4 linked regions of the Homo sapiens genome follow. The protein of the gene in region 1 purifies or fractionates together with the protein of each later gene. This does not show direct contact. Each region holds a gene or a part of one and is shown in the gene's direction. Other genes may lie near its edges. The genes, in order: ASNS, IARS1, GARS1 and AARS1.

Evidence for each region.
Region 2: the proteins of ASNS (region 1) and IARS1 fractionate together in Homo sapiens (co-fractionation; 2 studies listed by BioGRID). This does not show direct contact.
Region 3: the proteins of ASNS (region 1) and GARS1 fractionate together in Homo sapiens (co-fractionation; 2 studies listed by BioGRID). This does not show direct contact.
Region 4: the proteins of ASNS (region 1) and AARS1 fractionate together in Homo sapiens (co-fractionation; 2 studies listed by BioGRID). This does not show direct contact.

What each region holds. Positions count from the first base shown.
Region 1 is NC_000007.14:97,855,396-97,862,422, reverse strand, and holds part of ASNS (asparagine synthetase [glutamine-hydrolyzing]), read left to right. Parts: intron 1-3,024; coding exon 3,025-3,210; intron 3,211-3,467; coding exon 3,468-3,569; intron 3,570-4,017; coding exon 4,018-4,145; intron 4,146-5,606; coding exon 5,607-5,733; intron 5,734-6,963; coding exon 6,964-7,027.
Region 2 is NC_000009.12:92,241,675-92,248,701, reverse strand, and holds part of IARS1 (isoleucine--tRNA ligase, cytoplasmic), read left to right. Parts: intron 1-1,150; coding exon 1,151-1,325; intron 1,326-3,630; coding exon 3,631-3,743; intron 3,744-5,390; coding exon 5,391-5,486; intron 5,487-6,371; coding exon 6,372-6,548; intron 6,549-7,027. UniProt on the Homo sapiens protein: Catalyzes the specific attachment of an amino acid to its cognate tRNA in a 2 step reaction: the amino acid (AA) is first activated by ATP to form AA-AMP and then transferred to the acceptor end of the tRNA.
Region 3 is NC_000007.14:30,618,871-30,625,897, forward strand, and holds part of GARS1 (glycine--tRNA ligase isoform 1 precursor), read left to right. Parts: intron 1-2,522; coding exon 2,523-2,630; intron 2,631-3,446; coding exon 3,447-3,592; intron 3,593-7,027. UniProt on the Homo sapiens protein: Catalyzes the ATP-dependent ligation of glycine to the 3'-end of its cognate tRNA, via the formation of an aminoacyl-adenylate intermediate (Gly-AMP).
Region 4 is NC_000016.10:70,258,504-70,265,530, reverse strand, and holds part of AARS1 (alanine--tRNA ligase, cytoplasmic), read left to right. Parts: intron 1-428; coding exon 429-573; intron 574-3,006; coding exon 3,007-3,185; intron 3,186-4,373; coding exon 4,374-4,487; intron 4,488-6,344; coding exon 6,345-6,551; intron 6,552-7,027. UniProt on the Homo sapiens protein: Catalyzes the attachment of alanine to tRNA(Ala) in a two-step reaction: alanine is first activated by ATP to form Ala-AMP and then transferred to the acceptor end of tRNA(Ala). Also edits incorrectly charged tRNA(Ala) via its editing domain.

The sequences.
Region 1 (7,027 bases):
TTTCTCTCTCACTTTGCCTTTCCCAGAATGTCGTATAATAGTTGTAATCATATAGTATGTAGCTTTTTCAGACTGGCTTCTTTCACCTAGCAGTATACATTTATAGTTCTTCTGTGTTTTTTCATGGCTTGATAGCTCATTTATTATTATTATTATTATACTTTAAGTTCTAGGGTACATGTGCATAACGTGCAGGTTTGTTACATATGTATACATGTGCCATGTTGGTGTGCTTGCTGAATAATATTCCATTTGTTTGCATGCAATGCAATTTGTTTATCCATTCTTGAATTACCCATTTCTAATTGAGTTATTTTGTCTTTTTATTACTGAATTGTAATAGTTCCTTATGTATTCTAGATACAAATCCCTTCTGTTCATCAGGGTTGCAGGATACAAGATGAATATACAAAAATCAATGGTATTTGACACACTTTAACTGAATACTACATACTTAAAATGAGCAATCAAAATGAAATTAAGAAAGCAACTTCATTTATAATAGCATCAAAAAGAATAAAATACTTAGAAATAAATTTAAGAAGTGTAAAACTTGTACTCTGAAAACTATAAAATGTTGTTGAAAGAAATGAGAGGAGATCTAAATAAATGGAAAAGTATCCCATGATCATGATTTGAAGGCTTAACATTGTTAAGATGGCAGTCCTCCCTAAACTGATTTACAGATTTAACTTGATCCCTATCAGAATCCCAGATGAGTTCTTTGTGAAATCTACAAGCTGACTCTCAAATTCATATGGAATTGCAAGAGACTAAGAATAGCCAAAACAATCTTTTGAAAATGAAGAACAAAGTAGGAGACCTCATATTAACTGATTTTAAAACTTACTACAAGACAATGGTAATAAGGACAATATAATACTGACAGAAGGATAGATGTATAGACTAGTGGGATAGAATTGAGAGTCAGAAATGAACCCATACATATATGATCAACTTATTTTTGACAAGGGTGCCAAGATTATTCAGTGGAGAAAGAAGTTTGAAAACTGGCACAGGGGCAACCAGATATGTAACCATATGCAAAACTTGGAGTTGAATCTTTACCCAACATCGTATACAAAAATTATGGATACAGAAAAATGGATCAGGCCAGGCGCGATGGCTTATGCCTGTAATCCCAGCACTTTGGGAGGCCGAGGCGGGTGGATCACGAGGTCAGGAGATCGAGACCATCCTGGCTAACACAGTGAAACCCCGTCTCTACTAAAAATTAGCCGGGCGTGGTGGCGGGCGCCTGTAGTCCCAGCTACTCAGGAGGCTGAGGCAGGAGAATGGCGTGAACCCGGGAGACGGAGCTTGCGGTAAGCCGAGATCGCGCAACTGCACTCCAGCCTGAGTGACAGAGCGAGACTCATCTCAAAAAAAAAAAAAAAAAGGATCAAATGAATCAGTTTTGAACTAATCCACTTAAATGTAAGGGCTAAAACTATAAAATCCCGAGAAGCAAACATAGAAGTAAATTGTCATGACCCTGGATTTGGCAAAGCTTTCTTAAATATGAGACCAGCAACAATAATAAAAATCAATGAATTGGACTTCATCAAAATTAAACATTTTTGCACATCAAAGGACACCATCAAGAAAGTGAAAAGACGGCCCACAAGTTGGAAGAAAATACTTGCAAATCATGCATAGCACTTTTTGATGGTAAACTTGAGGAAGACATTTATCTTTTATCCCTTACCTGTGCAGCAGTAACATCCTAATATCTCTCTCCCTGCCTCTTTTTGCCATTCTTTAAATTCTTTCTCACTTAATTTTCAGATTTAATATTGGCTGAAGCAGGGATAATGAGATCAATCAAAGGGGTCCTTAGGACACTAGTCACAGTGTTTGTACTAATACTGGAACTGGCTTATTTTCAGGCATTTCTAGTGTGATCAGATGGCAAAGAACAAGCATATATATATGTCAGTTGCCAGGACTGCTGGGAAAGCCTGGTAAAGAGAACACTGGGGAAAAGCAGCCTCCTGCTCCCCTGGGCCTTCTTTGAGCCTGATGATCACTTGATATGGAACTTACCCTCTGAAATTCCTTAATTGTTCTTTTCTATATCCTTGACACTGTCCTTTTCCAGACCAAATTATCTCATCTGGAATACTGCAACAATTTTCTTTTCTCAGTGCTTTTAGAATAACCTGTCAAAATCTCATCTGATTATAGTATTGCCTGCTTAAAACCTTTTAATTACTCCCCATTCCCTATCCGGGTTGTGTAGCTCACTTGAGCTCTGCTGGCTGGTGAGGGAATCTGGGTCCTTTTTCTGGTATTTGAATTCAGTGCTACACAGGTTACTGGCTGGGTAGACAATCTCAAATTGTAAATCACGAGTATTCCATGTAGATAGTCCATTACGATCTACAATAAAACATTGATGTTTGTATCAAAGATCATGGTGATGAGAGGTTGGGTACTGTACTGTCTGTGAGAATTTATTGAGGAAATTTAAGTTATATGGTTTTATTCACATATAGTGTATAACAACTAGTTAAGGGATAGATGTCTTCTTATCTGACTTTAAAGTAGGTAAAAGTGGATCATTGTACTTGTTAAAGGTCTGGGAACCATGGCTGTGTTCTGAAAATACCTCAGTGATGACAAATAAATGACTCCCAGCCTATCATAACATTAGGACTCCAGTTCATCCCTTTGCTTCATAAGTGTGTCTTTTCCTTTTGTGTATTTGCTTTAGTATAGAAAATAGGTTTTCTTGATTAGAAATCTAAGAAGAAGAAATTGAACACTGGAGATTTTTCTATTTCTTTGAATTACGAAAAGTTAGTGTAATTTGGCAGTATATCCCTGTGCCATTATTGTCTCTCAGGTAAGTAGATGGTAGGGCTTAGGAAAATAGAAAATTTTTTTTCCTATTTTGCTTATTTAATGGGTATGTGTTTGTATTAAAAAGGGAAAATAGGAATGTAGATGATGTTAACTAATCGTGAAAGTTATTGGGAAGGGTTACCTAATTTGAATAAAGGTATCATTGTGAATTTCTAGGTCTTGTTACATTGAAGCACTCCGCGACTCCCTTTTTAAAAGTGGAGCCTTTTCTTCCTGGACACTATGAAGTTTTGGATTTAAAGCCAAATGGCAAAGTTGCATCCGTGGAAATGGTTAAATATCATCACTGTCGGGATGTACCCCTGCACGCCCTCTATGACAATGTGGAGAAACTCTTTCCAGGTAGCAGACACCCACCCACCTATTCCCCATCCTTCTCCAAGGGAAAAAAATTTTAAGTTGTATTCTCCCATCATTTGAATGATTTTAGTTTCAAGACCTACTTCCTATTTTGTTTGGAGGGAACACATTAAGATTTGGCACACTCCACCATTGAGTAAATACCATCATGATAGATGTTGATGATTGTGTATTTCATTTCAATAACTAATCCAGCCCAAGATTTTCTGGAGCTGTTTGATTTACTGCTGTGTTTATAGGTTTTGAGATAGAAACTGTGAAGAACAACCTCAGGATCCTTTTTAATAATGCTGTAAAGAAACGTTTGATGACAGACAGAAGGATTGGCTGCCTTTTATCAGGTGAAGTCAATTAAAAAAACCTAATTATATTTCATGTGTGTTTAATTGAAATGATTTGTAGCCATCCCTTTGGTTTTTACTATAAAATATTTACTGTATGATTTACTCTTTCCTTCATTATAGGATGGAAATGATTTTTTATAAGCTGTATTTAATAGTCATAGTCATACTCCAACTTGAGTTACACTATAGCTATGTTATTGGTGTTAAGAGTGAGTCAGTGAATGTTCTTTAGAATTCTGTGTAGTGATTTTTAACCAATTCAAATACTACTATTATCACAGTTTATATATTTTTCTCTTGTTGAAGTTGATTTCAGTTTATAAAACTTGGCGGATTTTAAATAGTAAAACTATGATCTTGGTGTTTATCAGGAATATACATCTTCTGTCCCTGTCTTATGCAAGGCACATAACTAGGACACTTCCACTTCCTCTTTTGCATGTAGGGGGCTTGGACTCCAGCTTGGTTGCTGCCACTCTGTTGAAGCAGCTGAAAGAAGCCCAAGTACAGTATCCTCTCCAGACATTTGCAATTGGCATGGAAGACAGCCCCGATTTACTGGCTGCTAGAAAGGTAAGGTGCTGTCTCTGTCCCTTGTGTAGTGTAGTTAGAGTAGACTTGTTATTAGAATGAAAATGGAGTCAATAATGGGTGATTCTACTGCTGCTGTATTGACTGGGTCAATTGTTTTAAATTGATTGTATTAAAATAGAATGAAATGGCTGTTGGATATGCACTGTGTTGTACACTGTCCTCTGTGTACTTTTATCTGTTATGACCCATGCAATTCTCACAAAGACCCTATGATGATAAGTATGCTCTTTTGAAAGTAAAGGTGTCTGGGCATGGTGGCCTACACCTGTAATCCCAGCACTTTACGAGGCTGAGGGAGGTAGATTACCTGAGGTCAGGAGTTTGAAACCAGCCTGAGCAACATAATGAAACTCCATCTCTACAAAAAAATACAAAAACTAGCCAGGCTTGGTGACGCATGCCTGTAGTCTTAGCCTTATGGGAGCCTGGGTGACAGAGTGAGACCTTGTCTCAAAAAAAAAAGAAAGTAAAGGCATAAGTCAGGTGCAGTGGCACACACCTATAGTCCCAGATACTTGGGAGGCTGTGGGGGGAGGTCTGAGCTCAGGAGTTCAAGTCCAGGCTGGGCAACGTAGCAAGACCCCATCTTGAAAAATTAAAAAAACGGGTTTTTTGTTCGTTTTTTTTTTTTTTTTTTTTTAAACGTAAAGGCATAGTATCATGGCTAAGACTGCAGACTTTGGAACCTGACTTGTGGTTTGAAATCCTGGCTCTACTCATTTATGTAACCAAAATAATAGTGTCTGCTATGGGGAAATTTTAAGGTGAAATGATATAATTCATGTAAAGTAAGTAGGGTAGAACTTAGCATGTAGTAAGTACTTAATGAGTGTTAGCTGTTATTATTATTTTTGAAAGTACTGTATTTAGAATACTGTGGGCAGAGGGCAGCTTGTCTGTATTCAGTGAGCGGGAGACCTAGTTCCCACTATGGAGGACTTTCGTAGCATGGATGAGAAAAAGCTAGAGAGCAGTCTCAGTGCAAGGTAATCAATGCCGAGAGAATCCAAAATAGCCAAGGAAAGCAGAATGAGGGGAAGGGCCATTCTATATAAGAATAACATCCTGGATATAAAATTAGGCATTTAAGAAGGACCAAAAAAGACCAAGCTTAGCGTGGGACCATGTTGGACTAGAGAGAGATGAGGTGGGTTAGGTAAAATAGGTAGAGAGGGAGGTGCCAACTGGGAGAATGGTTGAAGCCTTGGCACCAGAGGAGCTGAGGGGAGACTTACTTCCTGGTGGTGGAGTTGAAGCAGGCGAGGGAACAGTGCTGGATGGGGCTTGTATGTGGTGGGCTGTAAAGTCATTTTTCTTTTTTTCCCTTGTTTAGTTTTCACCATTGTTAATTCATAAAGCTTTGTGAACTCCCATCATGTTTGATTTTCAAGGGAAGTTATTTTCTTTAACAAGTAAATGGGTATTTCTTTATATAATAAGGTGGCAGATCATATTGGAAGTGAACATTATGAAGTCCTTTTTAACTCTGAGGAAGGCATTCAGGCTCTGGATGAAGTCATATTTTCCTTGGAAACTTATGACATTACAACAGTTCGTGCTTCAGTAGGTAAGGTATTATGATATTCTTAAATAAAAAGCTTTTTTTAATACTGAAAAAAATGTAAGGTTTAAAAAAATTATTTCAAGCCATAGTTTTAAAATGTTATTTAAGGATGAATGCAAATTAAATCCCTATGTTACTGATTATTTAAGACCACTTAAGAATTCTCTGAATCTCTTTTGGAGTGAAGGGAATAGTAAATACGTAGTTCAACCTCCACATTGTTGGTGTCACTGTTGGTGTTTCCCCAGGGAGCAGATACATATTTTCTGCCCTCTACCTCCCATTTCTCTTATAGTTTCTTGGGCTACAGTCTATATACAGTGAGGAAATAGGTCTTTTTGGTAATGCATTTTTGATAAGAAATAGTCATTTTAGATATATTCCATCACACAACTTACCAGTCACTAGCTATCATTGCTCTGCAAACAATACTAATTTTATCTTGTAGATAATGTATCTACTGAGATTGGAAGTATACCCCAAATCAGACTGATCCAGTGTTATTGAGCCTTTATATGCTACTGCCTCCCTTGAGAGACTTGCCTTGGAAGGCAAAAATATCTTAGGTATTACAATGGTTTATGGCCCTCCAAAACATCACAGTAAATAAGCAGATAGACAGGATAGCTCTGGTATTGGAATTTCATGGGGCTGGGGTGAGGTTAGGAAAATAAGTGTCTAAAAAGGCTCTCTAGCTGAGGTGATAATAAAAACAAGGTTGAGAAGAAACACTGGTTTAGAGAGATGTGGTGCAGGACCAAGGAGGCAAGTTTAATAACTTATATAGTCTCCCCAGCTTTATGTGAAATCTGGTAAATGGGGAGTGGCAGGGGGAAAATACCCATCAAAATTAACACTAAACCACCAAAACGGTTATTCTTATTTTTGTGTCATAATACCACTATGAAAGGCATGATTTTTAGGTATTTGAGTCATTGTTCAGCTTAGCAAAGTTTTGAGGTGGACATTCTTGGTCTAAAAACATTAGAATTTTAAAACCTGTTTAGAAAATGACAAAATGGTTCCGGGTTATTTTATTTTACAGTAGTACTTTTGGATTAAGTACATATAAATGGCTTATAAATACAAGGTCATTATTGTGGAAACTACTTTATATTAATATGAAGTCCAGTATAGTAGTAAAGCTTTCAATTATTTCCAAAAATCAAATCAAAGGCATTTTTGGTGGAAGGTTATGTTGACATTAAAGTTAATTTCTCTCTCTCATTTAAGGTATGTATTTAATTTCCAAGTATATTCGGAAGAACACAGATAGCGTGGTGATCTTCTCTGGAGA
Region 2 (7,027 bases), on another chromosome or scaffold:
TGTGGCTATGCATAAAATAGAAATTTTTTTTTTTTTTTTTTTTTTTTTTGTGACAGGGTCTCGCTCTGTCACCCAGGCTGGAGTGCAGTGATGTGATCTTGGCTCACTACAGCCTCCATCTCCTGGGCTCGGGCAATCCTCCCACCTCAGCCTCCCAAGTGGCGGAGATTAGGCATAGTAGTACAGGCTTTTGTAGAGATGGGGTTTTGCCATGTTGCCCGGGCTGGTCTCTAACTCCTGAGCTCAAGTGATCCTCCCACCTCGATCTCCCGAAGTGCTAAGATTACAAGTTTGCGCCACCACACCCAGCTGAAAAATTTTGAAATTAACTACTTCACTTAAAATGAGATTAATTAATGTAGCTAAATATAATGGCAAAACTAAACATTCCGTATTATTTGCTTCAAGCTGTTCTCATTTTCCCATCCGCTACTGTGCCATCACCATCCCTGCCGCATCAGTAATCCTCAGTAGCATGACTGAAGCATGAAGTGTTCTGTTTAACTGATCTTCTGCTTAGTTAATAGTTAACCTTGTGGTACTCTGCAATTGCTTGCACAAAGGTTACCTCTGAGGGATGAGGTTTATATTTCTGGGTCTGGAGTCCTTTTTCTGTTATGCTCAACTGTCTTGATAGATCTTCATAACAAGCATTTTCTTCTTACCATACAAATCACTGGTTTTTAAGCATATTTATAGAATGGTACAACTATCACCATAGTTTTAGAACATTTTCCTCGTCCCAGAAAGAAAGCCAGTATTCATTAACATTCACAAACCATTTTCCCCTCAATATCTGACCATTTCCTGGCATCCACGAACCTATTTGCTATCTCTGGATTTGCCTTCTCTGGACATTTCATATAAGTGGAATCATACAATTTGTAATCTTTATGTCTGGCGTGTTTCACCTAGCATAATGTTTCACATTAATTTATGTTGTAGCACATATGAGTGCTTCAGTCCTTCATATTGCCAAATACTCTATTGCATGTGTATGCTGCATTTTGTTTATCCATTCACAGTTGATGGACACTTGAAGTGTTCTTGCTTTCTGGCAGTTAGGAATAATGCTGCTGTGGACCTACATTTTTGTGTGAACATATGTTTTCATTTCTCATTTTTGTTTCCTCTTGTGCATTAACTGTAGGAACTCAATGTTCGAAAAGTTACACTGTCTACAGATAAAAACAAGTATGGCATTCGGCTAAGGGCAGAACCAGATCACATGGTCCTGGGGAAGCGTCTGAAGGGAGCCTTTAAGGCAGTGATGACGTCCATCAAGCAGTTGAGCAGTGAGGAGCTGGAGCAGTTCCAGAAGACTGGTAGGTGTCTACACAGACAAGGGCACCATTTATGTCCTGAGTCTGAGGGATACTTTTTAGGCTACTGTTTGACTTTTAATATCACATCCTTTCCTTTCCTGTCCTGTCGTGTCCCGTCGTGTCCTGTCCTTTCCTTTCCTTTCCTTACTCTCTTCTCTTTTCTCTCTTCTCTCTTCTCTTTTCTTGACAGAATCTCGCTCTGTCATCCATCCTGGAGCACAGTGGCGCGATCTTGGCTCACTGCAACCTCTGCCTCCCAGGTTCAAGTGATTCTCCTGCCTCAGCCTCCCAAGTAGCTGGGATTACAGGCACGTAGTACCATGCCTGGCTAATTTTTGTATTTTTGGTAGAAACAGGGTTTCACCATGTTGGCCAGGCTGGTCTCTAACTCCTGACCTCAGGTGATCCACCCGCCTTCGGTCCCCCAAATTGCTGGGATTACAGGTGTGTGCCACTGCACCGGTCCATCCTTTTCTTAAGTAAAACTTTTTTTCCTGTTGATAAAAATGTTTATTATAAATAATTCTTACAGTTTAGAAAGAAAATAGCTGGGCACAGAGGCTCACATCTGTAATCCCAGCGGCTCACATCTGTAATCCCAGCATTTTGGGAGGCCCAGTTGGATAGATCACTTGAGATCACTACAGGCACATACTACCACACTTAGCCAGATGTGGTGGTATGTGCCTGCCATCCCAGTTACTCTGGAGGCTGAGGTGGGAGGATCCCTGGAGCCTAGGGTGATTTTGTCCTTACTTTCATGGTGCTTGCTGACATTGAAGATTTGGGAAAATAATTATGGTTTTGATAAGTGTTATAAAGGGAAGGTGTAGGGTAACATAAAAACATGTGGGGGTACCTAACCAAATGATGGGATTAGGAAAGGGAAATCAGCCCCATCTTGCTACCCCTATACAGAGCATTTCAGGGTGCCCAGAAATTTGCAGCTCTGCCATGATTAGAATCATACATGGTCTGAGTGTGGCTGTCTGACATCCTGTAACTATCCTGGGGCACAAGCTGTTTATTGTTACGGCTTCCTCTGAAGTTGAAAATCATAAGCTAGGAGATGTCTTGAGAAGAGAGATTTGAGGATTCATAAATCAGATGGGGGAACTGTCCCTAAGATTCTCCAAATATTTAGATAGAATTAATAAAACATAAGACATCAGCAGCTAAACCTCAAGTTATTACTAATTACTAATCAACTCAAAATATTAAAATAACAAAGTGTTACGAGCCTTCAAGCCACAAATCTAAATTGTTCGCCAGATAGCCAAAGCATCAAAAATTCCTGAGATGGCTGGGGGTGGTGACTCATGCCTGTAATCCCAGCACTTTGGGAGGCCGAGGCGGGCAGATCACGAAATCAGGAGATTGAGACTGTCCTGGCTAACACGGTGAAACCCCGTCTCTGCTAAAAACACACACACACACACAAAATTAGCCAGGTGTGGTGGCAGGCGCCTGTAGTTCCAGCTACTCAGGAGACTGAGGCCGGGGAATGGCGTGAACCCAGGAGGCAGAGCTTGCAGTGAGCCGAGATCCTGCCACTGCACTGCAGCCTGGGTGACAAAGCAAGACTCTGTCTCAAAAAAAAAAAAAAAATTCCTGGGCTAAACCTTATTTGAAATTGAAAGCCTAGTTTCTGAGCGTACTGTTCTGCACTGATGGAAAACAAGATCATCTTCAGAACACAGAGACAAAGTAAACATAAAAATGACACCCGGGTGCTCAGAGCCCAAGAAGGTCATCATCAGTGACAACAGTGGGCCTCCCTATCAGCGGGGGTGTTAACATCAGCAGCTGTTCACATTTCTGCCTCCCCTGAACAGGCATGATGCTCAGTACTACACACTGCCCGTCTCATTTTAGCCTCACCACACCTTGCTCAGCAGGTAGCAGAACACCATGTCATACAACCAGCAAATAGTGGACCTAAGTTCACTTTCTCTTTAAAGACTGTATTTTCTTCATGACATCCTGCTGCTCTGTGTTTATGGTGAGCATTTGTTGCCTCTTGGTGCCTTCCCTTAGCTTTGTCATGTCTTTGGACCTGAGAGTTTATATAAAACAGTAGATACTGGTGATGACTTAACTGTCTTCAAGGTAGCATAGTGTAATCTAAAGAAAGTTTGTCATGTCTTGGCTACAACCATGACATGAGTCAGAGGGAAATGATCTCTTGAAGCCTCTGTGGCTTTGTTATTGTGAAATTTTAATCAAGAAGGGGCATAATACACGGGTAGTGGGGCAGCTTGAAGAGGAGGGGAAGCTGATTAACAGTGTAGCTGCTTCTCCATAGGGACCATTGTTGTGGAAGGCCATGAATTGCACGATGAAGACATCCGCCTCATGTACACCTTTGATCAGGCCACAGGTGGGACTGCGCAATTTGAAGCACACTCAGATGCTCAGGTATTTTTCTGTTTCCTAGAACATTTCTTTACCAAGAGATGAGAGCATAAGAGGAGAAAGTATTTGCCTGTGCCTTTCCTGATAATGTTGACAGCTTGTCTCAGGGTAAAATAAACCAGTTACTTGGTTTAGATTGGCTTTATTAAACTAATATATTATTATGCCCTTAACATATGCATTTGTTTAGTGAATACATAAGTAAGCATTTTGTGATTTCTACATGTCAGTCATTGTCCCAAGTGTGGGGTTGCACAAAAATGAACCCTTCAAGGAATGAGTCAGTCAAGGACACCTGAAATTAAGCCAGTTCTTAGTATTCTACCTGATAAGTTATCTGGTAGAAATAAGTACACAGAGGGCTCCTATCCAAAAATAGGTGTAGGGTGAAAAGTGGTCAGGGAACACTCTTTTCAAGAGAATATACAAACTGTTTTAGATTCCAGGATCAATATTTTTTGCCATATTGGAGAAGAGACTATCTCTTTGCAGTCCTGACCAGACATCCCCAGTCAGCATAGTTGTAAGATCTCGCATGTGGGTTTGGGGATATTGCAGGGGTCCCTCTGTGCTTAGCATACCATGTGCAGGGGAAGGTAGAGCAGCACCTCCATGAAAGGAAGGTCGACCTCCTCAGTCCTTTACCCAGGCGCTTAAGTTAGATGTGTACAGAACTCTACGTGGGAAGACAGTGGCAAGGAGTCGGAGGTATCGTAGCTGGGAAAGAAGGCAGGGAGGAGGTTTCTAAACACTGACAGTGGGCAGTTCTTCCTCATTACAGCAGATGTTAGGGGCCTGAAAAGTTGTCCACCTTACAAAAGTGTCATGTGATGCTTCTGAGTTTCTTGACATGGCTTACATGTTGTAGTGGCCCTGCACTGACTGGAATTTTGAGTTTATCATGCATTTCACTACCTCTGATGCCTTTATGAAGTGAGTCATTTCTTAACTTCTCTGTTTACTCAAAGGTAAATGAGATGATGCCTAATGTACAAGTCTTTTGTAGAGTATATTTTACTCTGCAACATGCTGTGTAACAGAAGCGATAGTGTCATTATTGCTACATCATAATCAGCAACCTTCAGAATAGATGAGATAGAAACATTAACCTTAGCAAAAATATGGCAGTTTAAGTCACAGAAAGTTTTGTGGTCCATTGTAGAATTTGTCTTGAGTCGTTCTGACAAACCTGAAGATCACAGGGGTCATGGTATAGGAAAGTCACTTGGAGTTGACTGCGCTGAGGCCGTTGATCCACTTGTTGTGGCCTGAAAAGCTGTGCTGCTCCAAGGGCTTCATGATTATTGATCTTACTTATTAGAAGAGTTGATATTACTTCTTAGATGGCCAAAAAGCAGAGTCATGTGAGGGACTCTGATAAGAGGTGGTCCCAGGGCATCTCCTGTGAGCAGCACCCTACAAAAAAACAAGAAACAAAAACCTGCACACCTTTCTCCAGAGACAGAGGACTAGCTGATTATGAAGAAGTACCTGAATGATAAACTAGATTAATTTTATTGCTTTTGCTCATTTGTGTGAAAAAATAGTGCTGCATTATAGACTCTCCAGATTTAAATAACATTTTGCTGAGTTGGGAAGAAGTGTTTCTCCTTATTTGATTGTCATGGTGTGCACTGTTCATTCCCACAGGCTTTGGTCCTCTTAGATGTCACTCCTGACCAGTCAATGGTAGATGAAGGAATGGCTCGGGAAGTCATCAATCGCATACAGAAACTTCGCAAAAAGGTTAGTTTGTCAGTTAAGAATAAGCTACTGTTTTGGCTTTTTGTTTGTTTTGGTTGTTTGGAGAAGATAGGAGAGGCAGGTAATATAAACCATAGTGATCAATGCATAACAATCACTAATCCATAGTCCATTTGGAATGTATTCTGCAGAAAAGTCACTCCTCTTCCTCTCCCCACGTGTTCACTCCCAAGTCGTAGCTTTCAGCCAGCCTGTGCCTTTTCCCATCCTTTTTTTTAGCTCCGTTGGGCTTCTACAGAATATCCCCTGTGACTGGAGCAGAAGGTAATCAGAGCTGATAGTGTCTTTGCAGAAGGGCAGAGGTGCAGTCAGCATAGACAGGCTTCTAGCTTAGGGGAGATTCCCGGATTTGGACAGAGTTGGGTAGTTTTTCCTTATTAGAGAGCTGAGGAATATGCAGGGAGCTCATCCTGGAGCGCAGAGGGGCTGCAAAGCCCCTGCTAGTGAGAGAATCAGGAATTTCTTGCCCTGTAGAGGGCAGTGACAGCTAACATACATCTTTCTTCCCAGACGGTTCAAGGTCTGAGGAGGCTGTTCCAGCAGATGAGTGGGTGCTTGTGACCTCTGAATCAGTTCAGAGCTTTGTAAGTGGGTTCTAAGTAATTTCTTGGTTTCAACATTCATGAGGTACTGATTGTTCTAGGAAAAGAAACATGCCCTATCCCCCAAAGAGTGGTGAAAAAGACACAAAGTTAATCATGTACTGAGTGCAGTTAGTCTTACGGATCACCCAGCAGGGAGGGAAGGGTGACTGCCCTTCTGTGATGATTCAGCATGGGATCTGTAGCCCTTGTTCAACAGTACCTTCCTTCAGTTCTGATTAATAGAATGTACTTCCCTTTTAAATTTTTCTGTGTGTGTTTTCAGTGCAATCTGGTTCCAACTGATGAAATCACAGTGTACTATAAAGCAAAGTCTGAAGGAACATATCTGAATAGTGTTATTGAAAGCCACACAGAGTTCATATTTACCACCATAAAGGCTCCCTTGAAACCATATCCAGTTTCTCCATCGGATAAAGTCCTTATTCAAGAAAAAACACAGGTGAGTCCTGAGTTCCACTGAACTACTACTAAAGGGTTTCAGATTAGGTTTGACTTTGTGTACTCACGTGTTGATATTCTGTCCCACAGTAGAGATCGGCACAGCACTCTGTCTTGAAGTATTGCTCTGGACAGTAGTGGGTAGAGTCAGAGAGTGGAAGCTCAGAAAAGATGGAGCAGGGAGGGAAGATGGAACTGTTTTCACAACAGTTCTCTTGAGGAAGGTAGCCAGGAGGGTACATGAGCTTTGCCCGGAAATAAAATGGCCTGTTTTTTCTAAAACTAGAAAAGGCAGTGTGTGGATTCTGGTAATTATCATTAAAAGTAAATAGCAATTGGCTTGAAAAACATTTAACTCTTCTGGTAGTGGGTTCTCCATAAAAGTACAGTACAAAAAAAGAAAGATTACAATAGCATTTCTGTTGTTACATCTAGGAATTTTAGATATACTTATGAAAGTATGATATTAAGGTAGGGAAG
Region 3 (7,027 bases), about 67 Mb from region 1:
AAAATGATAATAGTAATTATTTTTAGGATTATGGGTGATCATTAATTTCTTTACACTTTTTAGATTTTCTGGGACTTCTTTTTATTTTCAGATCAAACCAATAAAATGTTTTTCCTTTTGTATGAGAAAAGATTATTACTTTTCTTTTTGTTTCATACCCAGCTCCTTCTCTTAGTTTGCTCTGATTCTGATTTCAGATTAAACCAGATGTTGTTCTTGCTGTCTCAGTTAAGTAATTTGCTTAAGTCTCACAGCCAGTGAGTGGTGAGGCTGGGATATAAACCTGGCTGTCTGACACCAGACTCATGCTCTTAACAGTTATGCTGTACTGCTTTATAAACCCCACTGGATGCCTGCTCGTCCTTATCTAAGTGCCATTGTGAGGGTTAGGGATCAGAAAATGGAAAGTCACTGGAAAACAGGGCTAAATGAAACAAGAAGCTCCAGAGTCCCAGAGGCTCTTAAGGAGAGGGGAGAACTCCCTTAGAGAGTTTAATACTTTTTGTGTACTTTATATATTTTTTTAATAAAAAAATTTACCGTTGCAGTTAATGCCACACCAATTCTCTTTCCATCCAGAGAAGTAACCACTATCCCAATGTTGTTATTCTCAGGCACGTTTTTGTAATTTTACCTTTCAGTACATAAATGTTAGTTGACATCTGCAGTAAATTATAACCACCAAACTATATGGTTAAGAACATAAGTATACTTAACCAGTCGACATGTATAGGGAATGTCAGATTGCCAGGTTACATGTTTTTAGGCTTTGTTCTTTAATTCCTTTTGTTGTTGTTTTGTGTTGGAGTTTCTGAGCTCATATGAGTTTTATATTTGCTTGCTTTATTACAGACACCCCATGTGATAACATGTGCTTGGAAAGCTTAGTAGTTTTTTCTTTTTTTCTTTTTTTTTTTTTTTTTTTGAGACAGAGTCTTACTCTGTCACCCAGGCTGGAGTGCAGTGGTGCACTCTCAGCTCACTGCAGCCTCTGCCTCCTGGGTTCAAGCGATTCTCCTGCCTCGGCCTCCCAAATAGCTGGGATTACAGATACATGGCACTGCACCCAGCTAATTTTTGTATTTTCATGAAGACAGGATTTCTCCGTGTTAGCCAGGCTGGTCTTGAACTTCTGACCTCAGGTGATCCACCCGCCTTAGCCTCCCAAAGTGCTGGGATTAGAGACACGAACCACTGTGTCTGGCCAAGCTTAGTAGTTTTGATGGTTGAATTTCCCCAAACTCTTTGGATCAAGGGCAAAAAAAAAAAATGAATCTTCTTGAGAAGGACTAACTAGGTATCTACCAAAATAAGCTCTTTACAAACTCTTGTTCTTATTGAAATAACGGGTTCTTAAGAGTTTGTCATAGTTGGGGTTTCTATAAGAAAGCACCACATACAGAGTGGCTTATAAACAATGGACATTGATTTCTCACCGTTCTGGAGGCTGGAATTGAGAGATCAGGGTGCCAGCATCGTCTGATCCTTGTGAGGGCCCCATTCTCAGTCGCATACTGCCAACTTCTTGTTGTATCCTCACATGGTGAAAGAGGGCAAGAGAGCTCTCTGGGGTCCCAAATTCCAGTGATTAGGGCTCCATCCTCATGACCTAATCACCTCCCAAAGGCACCTCCTCCTAATACCATCACATTGGGAGTTAGGATTTCAATATACGAATTTTGTCAAGGACACAAGCATTCAATTCATTGCAGGTTCTTTGAAAATAATTTAAATTTTGCTTTTTAAAAGTATCTTATGTGTGTATTTATAAGAAAGGGAACCTGGCATCAATGTGATCATAATGCTCTTATATAATTTTATTGTGTGACCTGAACTTTACCCACTCTTATACTGAGTTTTCTTTTGTTCAGTGAAGAAAGTGAATTGAATCCAAATGCCCACATTTATGGCCAGCTGAAGTATGTGTTTAGTCAGCCATCTGATATCAAGTTGTGAGAACACTAGGTACTTCATCTAAAGAATAGTGGTTTCTGCCAAATTCATTTTGATTTCTGTTCACAAATTTGAACCAAATTTACAGGCTTTGTCTAGGTTCACATTTAATTTCCATAATTAAATTCCAGAATATGTTAGTTTACCCCACAGACTCAGTATAACAATATAAATCCATCCAGAAAGGAAGACTACTTTGTGTACAGTGTGAATTATATATTTTTTTCTTTCTTTTTTTTTTTTTTTTTAAGATAGGGTCTCACTGTGTTGCCCAGATTGGTCTCAAACTCCTGGCCTCAAGTGATCCTTCCACCTCAGCGTCCCAAGTACCTGGGATTACAGGCATGAGCCATCACACCCAGATCAGTGTGAATTATATTTTATAGGCTTATTAGCTGCCTGATATATGAGGCTATTCCCATTTCAAATATTTATGAAATTTGAATGAAGATTATATCATCGAATTATCATTGAATATATGAAAGGTTTATAATCTGCATGCATTTGTGAATGAACCCAATATAAGTAATAATAAGTAAGTAATGTTTTTATTGATTATATCTTTTTAGGGTTGGATTGAGATTGTTGGATGTGCTGATCGTTCCTGTTATGACCTCTCCTGTCATGCACGAGCCACCAAAGTCCCACTTGTAGCTGAGAAACCTCTGAAAGAACCCATATCCTTTCTGGTCACTCCAAAAACTCAGGATTCACATGTGAACATCTTGCTAATGAATAAGTCCAAGTCTTTACCTTGTTCTATGGATAAATGGAGATGTTTTAGACACTGTAGTAACGCTTGTTTAAACCTATTATTTTACCTATCCCTTTGTTCCTTTCCTATTCTCTGTACTTGTAGTCTGACGTGTGCCCACTCAATGTTTGGCCTTTAAAAGAAGCATATTTAGAAAAATGCTCTGAATATCTTTCAGAACGTTAATAGTTTTTCTCAGCTGTTTCCAAAACGCACTTCACACCTGCACCTACCTACGTGCTCTTTAAATAAAGGGTACCTGGTGAAAGCTTTTTCCATTAAAAGATGAGTGCCATTTGATAGTAGCTGAAATAATAATTTAGCTCACTTGGTCTGAAAATCAGCAAAATAGAAATTTTCTTTCTTTAGTAGGCAGTGAAGTTATGAGCTGATTTCTTAGGGGTAGGTCAGTGACAGGAAATAGATCTTGTTTTGAGCATTTTAGAAATACTTATCAGAAGTTCTTATGCTATGGGTTGGGTCATTGCTGATTAGATAATATCTCTTTTTTCTCACTGTAACTGGAAAAGTTTCTATTGATGGTGTTAATTTTGGATGAGAGTTGTCTGAATGATTTTGTGGACAGGTGTTTCATCTTGCCTTAAAATCAGCATAAACAGGATCTGGAGTACTGATAGAGAGCTGGCATGGTTTTAAGTTGATGATTGATTGTTCTCAGGCTCATTTTCTGAAATACTGAGGCAGTGCTGTAGTTTTGGATTCCTTGACTACTTCATACAAAACAGTCAATGTTGTTCAGTTTGAACCCAGTAAGGGAGCAATTGGTAAGGCATATAAGAAGGATGCAAAACTGGTGATGGAGTATCTTGCCATTTGTGATGAGTGCTACATTACAGAAATGGAGATGCTGCTGAATGAGAAAGGGTAAGATATCAGATGTTTACTCTTCCATGGGCTCCAGTCAGTTGTGTCATCTGCCAGGTTCTGAAAGGATGAGATTAATTTCTTAAGATTTTTTGCAGGTAAGTACTGTATCTTGGCTGCATTTAAAAGACTGTCTTTGCCGAGATTTTGGCATTATAGCCTGAAAAAAGATTTGAAATAGAATATACTTTTTTTTTTTCCTAGTAACTGTCTTAAACAAAGAGACTTGTCCAGCCAGGCTGAGGAAGGAAGGGTTAGAAACTACATCTACTATCTCTCAGGTCACTTCTCTCTCCTTTTTGGAGGTTTAGAATACTCTCTGTAATTGTTTAAGCATGAATATAAACAATAGAGAAGGCCGGGCACAGTGGCTCATGGCTGTAATCCCAGCACTTTGGGAGGCTGAGGTGGGCAGATCACGAGGTCAGGAGATCGAGACCATCCTGGCTAACACAGTGAAACCCCGTCTCTACTAAAAATACAAAAAAATTGTCCGGGCATGGTGGCGGGCGCCTGTAGTCCCAGCTACTCAGGAGGCTGAGGCAGGAGAATGGCGTGAACCTGGGAGGCGGAGCTTGCAGTGAGCCACCATCGTGCCACTGCACTCCAGCCTGGGCAACAGAGTGAGACTCCGTCTCAAAAAAAAAAAAACAAAAAAAAAAAATAGAGAAAAGCCTTTAAAGAAATACAACAAAATCCAGCACTGAACAGTGTAAAACTTACAATATCCAGCAAACAATAAAAATTATTATATATATGAAAAAGCAGGAAAATGAGAAGTAAAGTCAGTCAAAAGAAACACCCAGAAAAAACAAACATGATGCAGTAAGTACATAAGGATGTTAAAGCACTTATTATAAATATGCTTCATGTACTCAAGGGTGTAAAGGAAAACATTAACATGTGAGGTGAGAAATGGAAAAATATATGTGTAATATGGATATAAACACATGTTTTTTATATATATAAACAACATGAAACATTTAGAGGCAATATCTCAAATGAAAATGTCACTGGATGGGATTAACAGTAGATTAAACATTACAGAAGAAAGGTCATTGAACTTAAAGACATAGCAACTATCCAAAATGAAGCATAGAAAAAAATGAGACTGGGAAAAAGATGTCCAGTGGGACAATATCAGGCAGTCTAATGCATGTGTAATTGAGAGTCCTAGAGAGGGTGTATAGAAAAAATATTATACAGTAGCTAGAAAATTTACAAATTTGATGAAAACGCTAAAACTACAGATTCAAGAAGCTTAGCCCCAAGCAGGATAAACACGAAGATGACCACATGAAGACCCGTGAGAATCAAATAGCTAAAAACCAGGGATGAAGAGAAGAACCTTTAAAGCAGCTAGTGGGGAAAAAGACTCATCACATAAAAGCAAACAAAGATAAGAATGATTAGAATTCATATCAAAAACTGCGCGGATCACAATATAATGGAATGAAATCTTTTAAAGTGCTTTAAGACAAAATTCCTACACCCAGCAAAAATATCTTTCAAAAATGAAGAGGAAGTACTTTAAGACCAAGCTTGTTCAACCTGCGGCCTGCAGGCTGCATGTGGCCCAGGATGGCTTTTGATGCTGCCCAACACAAATTCGTAAACTTTCAAAAAACATTATGAGGTTTTTTTGCATTTTTTTTTTCTTAGCTCATCAGCTGTGGTTAGTGTTAGTGTATTTTATGTGCAGTCCGAGACAGTTCTTTCTAGTGTGGCCCAGGGAAGCCAAAAGATTGAACACCTCTGTTTTAGACAATCCGGGGCTCTGAGAGTGCATTGCCAGCAGACCTCCACTATGAGAATTGTTAAAGGCACTTCTTCAGGCAGAAGTATGAAAGTTTAGATGTACCCAGAGGACTTGAGAGATCTAGAAATGATAAATATGTGGGTAAATAGAAATGGCATTTTCTCTGTCATCTCTTAATTTCTTTAAAAGATAATGGAGTATTTAAAGTAATATGGAATTTATAACATGGAAGTAAAATGTATGCTATCAGTAGCACAAAGGGTGGGAGCAAAGAATTGGGAATATACTCTTGTGAGGTGTATACATTATATGTGAAATGGTGTAATATTACTTGAAGATAAACTATGATAAGTTAAAAAATGGATAGAATGAACTCTAGAGCAATCACCTGGAAAAAAAACACACACAAAAAAGGGGTGTAACTAATAAACCAATAGTGGAGATAAAGTAGAATAAGAAAAAATATTCCACAAGAAGATGGGAGAAAAGGAAAAGGAACAAAGAACAGATGGGACAAAGATGAACTCTTGCAAGTTGAAGATACCTGTTTCAGAAAAATTTAAAAACATTTCTCGTCTTCCAGAATTAACATCTATTTATACTAAAACAATATCAAATCCCATTAAAATGGACTAAGTTATATTACTAGTTAAATATCATTATCCATAAACACAGTTTGCTTTATTAATTATTCTCAAATAATGGCTGTCTCCTTGTCAATTACAACTCTTTTTTTTTTGAGATGGAGTCTCACTCTGTCACCTAGGCTGGAGTGCAGTGGCGTGATCTCAGCTCACTGCAACCTCTGCTTCCCAGGTTCAAGCAATTCTCCTGCCTCAGCCTCCCGAGTAGCTGGGACTACAGGTGTGCACCACCACGCCTAGCTAATTTTTTGTATTTTTAGTAGAGACGGGGTTTCACCTTGTTGACCAGGCTGGTCTTGAACTCCTGACCTCAGGTGATCCACCTACCTTGACCTCCCAAAGTGCTGGGATTACAGGTGTGAGCCACCTCGCCTGACCCAATTGCAACTCTTTTATAGCTGTTAACTATGATACACTTAGACTGTGCTCACAGAGAGAATGCATGTGACACTGTGTATGTAATGGAACCTTGAATGCATGCACACACAGACTTCAGACAGAATAGTAAAAACGGAAGAATTCAGTGAACACCAGTCAGATGAGGCATGAGATTATCACAGGTGGAAACTAGCAAAATACAGTTATAACATATGCCAACTATCCAGCTTCTGAGACAACCACATGAGGGCTCTCTATCCTAGCACTGAATTGCTTGGGAGGGAGGAGAAATCCAAATGGATATTCAAAATGTGAGGAAATACCTCCTAAGCTGAAATACAGGTATTACATGAAGCTCTTTATAAAGATGAATTCTTATAACCTGAAACTGAATGGGCATATCTCAGGACACAAATACATGGCAGCCAGTGATTTTGAGGGGGATAATATTTTATATTGCCATATGAAACAGAAACATTAAACTTCTTTTAAACTGATCTTCATCAACACAAATGTCCAAATTTATTTTGAAAATAGTGTGGGTATTGGATTGTAAAATTACTTCTGTAAGATGGCATGCTGGTTCATTTGTACATTTGTTGGGACAGTAATGAGAACCCTTGTGTTTTTACCAGCAGGCCTATTTCTGACAAA
Region 4 (7,027 bases), on another chromosome or scaffold:
ACTTGGAGAGTGAACAGGAAACCCAACACCTTCCAACCCAGCACCACTTGGCTGCAGACTGAGCATGAGTTTCCTTCCATTAAAGTCTTTGAAGTGCTTTTTCCCCTAGATCAGTGGTTCTCAAGTGGGGGCGAGTCTGCCTTCCAGGGAGTAATTGGCGATAATGTCTGAAGACATTTTTGATTTTCACAACTAGGGGCAGATCCTGCTGTCACGTACTTGGTAGAGGCCAGGGTGCCCCTCAGCATCCCACACTGCAAGAGAAGTTTCCACAACAGAGAATGATCTGGCCCCAAATGTCAGTAGTGCCAGGATTGAAAAACCCTGTTCTGGCAGTTTATGCTGGGCATAGTTTAGCAAGTTCCAGTCCTTTGGAGTCCCTTTTCTCCTACTTTACGGTAACTTATGCTTGTTTCTCTTGCTGACAGCTGAAATCACAGGGCAAGGGAGCTGGTGGGGAAGACCTCATTATGCTGGACATTTACGCTATCGAAGAGCTCCGGGCACGGGGTCTGGAGGTCACAGATGATTCCCCAAAGTACAATTACCATTTGGACTCCAGTGGTAGCTATGGTATGTTGCTGTGCTCCTTCCACATCTGAGCATTCTGCCCCGTATCTGGGGGGTATTTGAAAGATTGTTTCTCAAGATTAGCTCTCCAGCAGACTGCTGACAGCCTCTCCTGGAGTGCCGTACAGTCACGCTATGCACTTTTATACACATAGGCACCCTTGGCTGGAGGTTTTCTTAACTCTATTTTGAAATAATTATTGTCACAGGAAGTTGTAAAAAAAAAAAATTTGTAGGAAGGGTCTCACACCCTTTTATCCAGTTTCCCCTAATTGTAACATCATGCAGGAAACTGGGCAATTGACATTGATACAATCCACAGTGACTATCAGAATGCTATTAGGGGCCTGGCGCTGTGCCTCACACCTGTAATCCCAACACTTTGGGAGGCCGGGGCAGGTGGATCACCTAAGGTCAGGAGTTTGAGACCAGCCTGACCAACATGATGAAACCCCATCTCTACTAAAAATACGGAAATTAGCCGGGCGTGGTGGCGTGCCCCTGTAATCCCAGCTACTCGGGAGGCTGAGGCAGGAGAATCGCCTGAACCTGGGAGGCAGAGGTTGCAGTGAGCCAAGATCATGCCATTGCACTCCAGCCTGGACAACAAGAGTGAAATTCCGTCTCGGGGAAAAAGAAAAAGAATGCTATTAGGATTCTATTATCCTAATGCTGTTAGAATGCTATTATCCTAATAGCATTCTTTTTTTTTTCTGAGATGGAATCTCCCTCTGTTGCCCAGGCTGGAGTGCAATAGTGTGATCTCGGCTCACTGCAACCTCCACCTCCTGGGTTCAAGCGATTCTCCGGCCTCAGCCTCCCAAGTAGCTGGGATTACAGCCACGCACCACCACACCCGGCTGATTTTTGTGTTTTTAGTAGAGACAGGGTTTCACCATGTTTGCCAGGCAGGTCTCAAACTCCTGACCTCATGATCTGCCTGCCTTGGCCTCCCAAAGTGCTGGGATTACAGGCGTAAGCCATCTCGCCCGACCGGATAATAGTATTCTAAAGTTAAGAAACAAAGCCAGTGCAATGACTCATGCCTGTAATCCCAGCACTTCGGGATGCCAGGGTGGGCTGATCAGTTGAGCTCTGGTGTTTGAGACCAGTCTGGGCAACATGGCGAAACCCTGTCTCTACCAGAAATACAAAAATTAGCTAGGTGTGGTGGCGCATGCCTGTAGTCCCAGCTATTTGTGGGGCTGAGGCAGGAGGATCACTTGAGCCTGGGAGATTGAGAGGCTGCAGTCAGCCATATTTGTGCCACTGCACTCCAGCCTGGGCTACAGAGTGAGACCCTGTCTCAAAAAAAACATAAAAATAAATTGGCAATACATGTTTTTGCAGCTTTTTTGCCCTGGTAGAGAACAATCTTTTTTTTTTTTTTGAGATGGAGTTTCGCTCTGTCACCCAGGCTGGAGTGCAGTGGCGCATTCTCGGCTCACTGCAACTTCTGCCTCCCAGCTTGAAGTGATTCTCCTGCCTCAGCCTCCCAATTAACTGGGATTACAGGCATGTGCCACCACACCTGGCTAATTTTTGTATTGTAGTGGACACGGGGTTTCACCGTGTTGGCCAGGCTGGTCTCAAACTGCTGAGCTCAGGTTATCCACCCGTCTCAGCCTCACAAAGTGCCAGGATGACAGGTGTGAGCCACCGTGCCCGGCTGAGAACAATCTTACACCTAAATCTATTCAAGCAAGCCTACAAAATGAGTACATTCTTTGTGAGTTGACCTTGGACTAGGGAATTTATTACTACTCTTAAAGATCTACTAATCTGATGCACCAAGTTTCTGTTCAGTAGCTCAGAGTTAGGGTAACCCATTGTCCCAGTTTTAACACTGAAGCCTGCATCCCAGGAAACCCCTCAGTCCTAAAAATTGGGACAGTTGGTCACCCGACAGAGTGTTGCATTCTTTGATGGAAAGCCAGCATGCGAAGCCCTTTGTTGTTGTTGTTTTTTTTTTTTTTTTTTTTTTTTTTTTTTTGAGACCGAGTCTTGCTTTGTCACCCAGGCTGGAGTGGAGTGGCACAATCTCGGCTCACTGCAAGCTCCGCCTCCTGGGTTCACGCCATTCTTCTGCCTCAGCCTCCTGAGTAGCTGGGACTACAGGTGCCCGCCACCACACCCGGCTAATGTTTTGTATTTTTGGTAGAGACAGGGTTTCAGCGTGTTAGCCAGGATGGTCTCGATCTCTTGACCCCGTGATCCGCCTGCCTCGACCTCCCAAAGTGCTGGGATTATAGGGGGAGCCACCGCGCCCGGCCGCGAAGCCCTTTCATATTGTCTAATGAGTTTGCTTCCAAAATACAATTGGACAATTAGGAGCTAAGAAGAGTTTGCGAAAGAGAATCCAGCAAAAGTCAGCCAAGAAGGAGTGAAAAGGTCATTGACCCCACTGTCCCCTTTCTATGCATTTCCCTTGAGCAGTATTTGAGAACACAGTGGCTACGGTGATGGCTCTGCGCAGGGAGAAGATGTTCGTGGAAGAGGTGTCCACAGGCCAGGAGTGTGGAGTGGTGCTGGACAAGACCTGTTTCTATGCTGAGCAAGGAGGCCAGATCTATGACGAAGGCTACCTGGTGAAGGTGGATGACAGCAGTGAAGATGTGAGCCAACAGTTCTTCCTTGTTAGCCGAGGAGGGCCAGGCGTGGAGCCGGGGAGCTGCTTTTGCCCCACAGTGCTCCAGGCCTTGGGAGCAGACCTGACACACCTTTGGGTTGGGTTCCATGGTATTTCTGAAGCCGAGGGAGCTGTTGCTTGTACCTGTTGCTTTCCTGGCCATCGGGTACCCTCGTAGGAGTATTTTTGCAGCCAGGGTACAAGTTTCCTACAAGCTTTGCACATTAAAAAGGAGAGGCAGCTCTCTGAAGGGGAGATGTCCTTGTAGAAAACTCAGCCTCGAGCTCTGCCGCTGCTGAATGAGTTACTTTGTCTCCCTAGGCTTCAGGTTCCTTATGGAGGCTTTTAGATACTCAAAGATGCGGCTGGGTGTGGTGGCTCATGACTATAATCCTAGCACTTTGGGAGGCCAAGGCGGGTGGATCGCCTGAGGTCAGGAGTTCAAGACCAGCCTGGCCAACATGGTGAAACCCTGTCTCTACTGACATACAAAAATTAGCCAGGTATGGTGGTGGATGCCTGTAATCCCACCTGCTCGGGAAGCTGAGAGGGGAGAATCGCTTGAACCCAGGAGAGGGTGGTTGCAGTGAGCCGAGATTGCGCCACTGCACTCCAGCTTGGGTGGCTGAGCGAGACTCTGTCTCAAAAAAAAAAAAAAAATTCTAAGATGCTCCTTAATATTGGTTATGTCTGTGTGTGTGCACAAATATATTTAATTTTTTTTTTTTTTTTTTGAGATGGAGTCTCGCTCTGTAGCCAAGGCTGGAGTGCAGTGGCATGATCTTGGCTCACTGTAACCTCTGCCTTCCGGGTTCAAGCGATTCTCCTGCCTCTGCCTCCTGAGTAGGTGGAATTATAGGCACTTGCCTTCACGCCTGGCTAATTTTTGTATTTTTTTAGTAGAGATGGGATTTCACCATGTTGGCCAAGCTGGTCTCGAACTCCTGGCCTCAGGTGATCTACTCACCTGAGCCTCCCAAAGTGCTGGGATTACAGTCATGAGCCACTGCACCTGGCCTATTTAATCATATTTAATGATATTAAGGGAGTATGTGTGTGTGTGCAATTTACATATGTAAAGAGAAGTTATATACACGAGTTTATATTGAAAATATAAGAAAATTTGTATGTTTTTAAGGATTTATTTATTGGTCTCTTCCTTGACCCCTCTTAGAAAACAGAGTTTACAGTGAAGAATGCTCAGGTCCGAGGAGGGTATGTGCTACACATTGGAACCATCTACGGTGACCTGAAAGTGGGGGATCAGGTCTGGCTGTTTATTGATGAGGTGAGTTGGGTTACTGTGGCCCCCATTGGATCTGGTTAGTAATTATCTTCTCCTCTGGCTTTAAATTGTCCTGTCACTGTTGGGCCGGGTGTGGTGGCTCACACTTGTAATCCCAGCACTTTGGGAGGCCGAGGCGGGTGGATCATGAGGTCAGGAGATCGAGACCATCCTGGCTAACACGGTGAAACCCCGTCTCTACTAAAAATATAAAAAATGAGCTGGGCGTGGTGGCAGGCGCCTATAGTCCCAGCTACTCGGGAGGCTGAGGCAGGAGAATGGCGTGAACCCGGGAGGGGGAGCTTGCAGTGAGCCAAGATCCCGCCACTGCACACCAGCCTGGGCAACAGAGCGAGACTCCGCCTCAAAAAAAAAATTGTCCTGTCACTGTTATCACTCCCTAGTGTAAGTAGACCGCAGGGGTTAATTTAGGTGCATTTGGTGGATTGTGAGGGATGCAACTAAGAGTTAATCTATATGTTCCCAAGTCAGTGATTTCACCAGTGATTTCAGTTAAGATCCCGTGGACTTGTTTTCACGGATTGCTTTTCTAACGTCACCTACTTCTTTGGGAGCCAAGGATGCTGAAGAATGAAGAGGTAGGCTCTGGCATGTGACAGAGCTCCAGAGTAAGAGTAGCTTAAAACCAGGATAGCAGTGTATGTTCTAAAAAGCTCAAGCTGATACGGAGGCTCTGCCCCACAGTCAGAGGGCCTGGTTTCTCCTCACCTGTCACTCCACCTTCTTTCCTGGGGCATTGCCTTTGATTTCCTGGTTCAGAGGATAGCTATCAGATCCATTGTCTAGGCCAGGGGTTGGCAAACTTTGTGTAAATAACTGGATACTAAATATTTTTGGCTTTGCTGACCACATGTTCCTGGTGATGAGTACTCAGCTCTATAGTTGGAGTGTTCAAGCAGCCATTGACCATATGTAAATGAACAGGTGTGGCTGTGTTCCAATAAACCTGTTTATGGCTGGGCACAGTGGCTCATGCCTGTAATCCCGGCACTTTGGGAGGCCGAGGCGAGCAGATCACCTGAGGTCGGGAGTTCGAGACCAGCCTGACCAACATGGAGAAACCCTGTCTCTACTAAAAATACAAAATTAGCCGGGTGTGGTGGTGCATGCCTGTAATCCCAGCTACTCAGGAGGCTGAGGCAGGAGAATCGCTTGAACTCGGGAGATGGAGGCTGCAGTGAGCCGAGATCATGCCATAGCACTCCAGACTGGGCAACAAGAGCGAAACTCCTTATAAAAAAAAAAAACTGTTTATAAAAATTTATAAACACATACATTTGGGGAGGCTGAGGTGGGAGGATTGCTTGAGGCCAAGAGTTTGAGACCCAGCCTGGGCAACAACATGAGACCCCATCTCTACAAAAAAATAAAAAATATTAGTTGGGGGTAGTGGTGTGTGCCTGTAGTCCCAGCTACTTGGGAGGCTGAGGCAAGAGGATCACTTGAGCCCAGGAGTTTGAGGTGGCACTGAGCTACAATCGCGCCGCTGTACTCTATCCTGGGTGACAGAGCAAGACCCTGTCTCTAAAAATGAAAAGACAGATGACAGGCTAGATTTAGCCATCGGCCGTCATTTGGCAATTCCTGTTCTAGGCGGTGGAAAAGAAATGGGAGGACCTGCCCCATCCCTTTAATGGTAGACATCACTTCTGTTCAAAACCTTTTGACCCGAACTTAGTCACATGGACACACTTAGCCATAGGGAAGCTGGGAAATGTAACCTTTATTCTGCACAGCCATATTTCCAACTAAAAATTGTAGCACTCGGGGGAGCAGATAACGAGGAGATAACTAGCAGTCTATTACAGACCTCTCCATGAGCCCCTCTGCCCTTTCCAGCCCCGACGAAGACCCATCATGAGCAACCACACAGCTACGCACATTCTGAACTTCGCCCTGCGCTCAGTGCTTGGGGAAGCTGACCAGAAAGGCTCATTGGTTGCTCCTGACCGCCTCAGATTTGACTTTACTGCCAAGGGAGCCATGTCCACCCAACAGATCAAGAAGGCTGAAGAGATTGCTAATGAGATGATTGAGGCAGCCAAGGTAGGATGGGCGACGGCTGAATGCCCCCCCTCCCCACACCGTCACTGTCTGTCCACAGTCTTAGCAGTGCGGTGCTCTCACTCTGTTGTATCAGATTCGTCCTGCACGTAGATTTGCTTAAAGCAGGCTGGGCACGGTAGCTCACGCCTGTAATCCCAGCACTTTGGGAGGCCGAGGCGGGCGGATCACGAGGTCAGGAGATTGAGACCATCCTGGCTAACCCTGTCTCTACTAAAAATAGAAAAAATTAGCCGGGCGTGGTGGCGGGCACCTGTAGTCCCAGCTACTCAGGAGGCTGAGGCAGGAGAATGGTGTGAACCCGGGAGGTGGAGCTTGCAGTGAGCCGAGATTGCGCCATTGCACTCTAGCCTGGGAAACAGAGCGAGACTCCGTCTCAAAAAAAAAAAAAGTTTGTTTAAAGCAGTGATTCTCCATCTGTGCTTTTGCCGGGGGCAGTGGTGGTGGTTGGTGGAGGG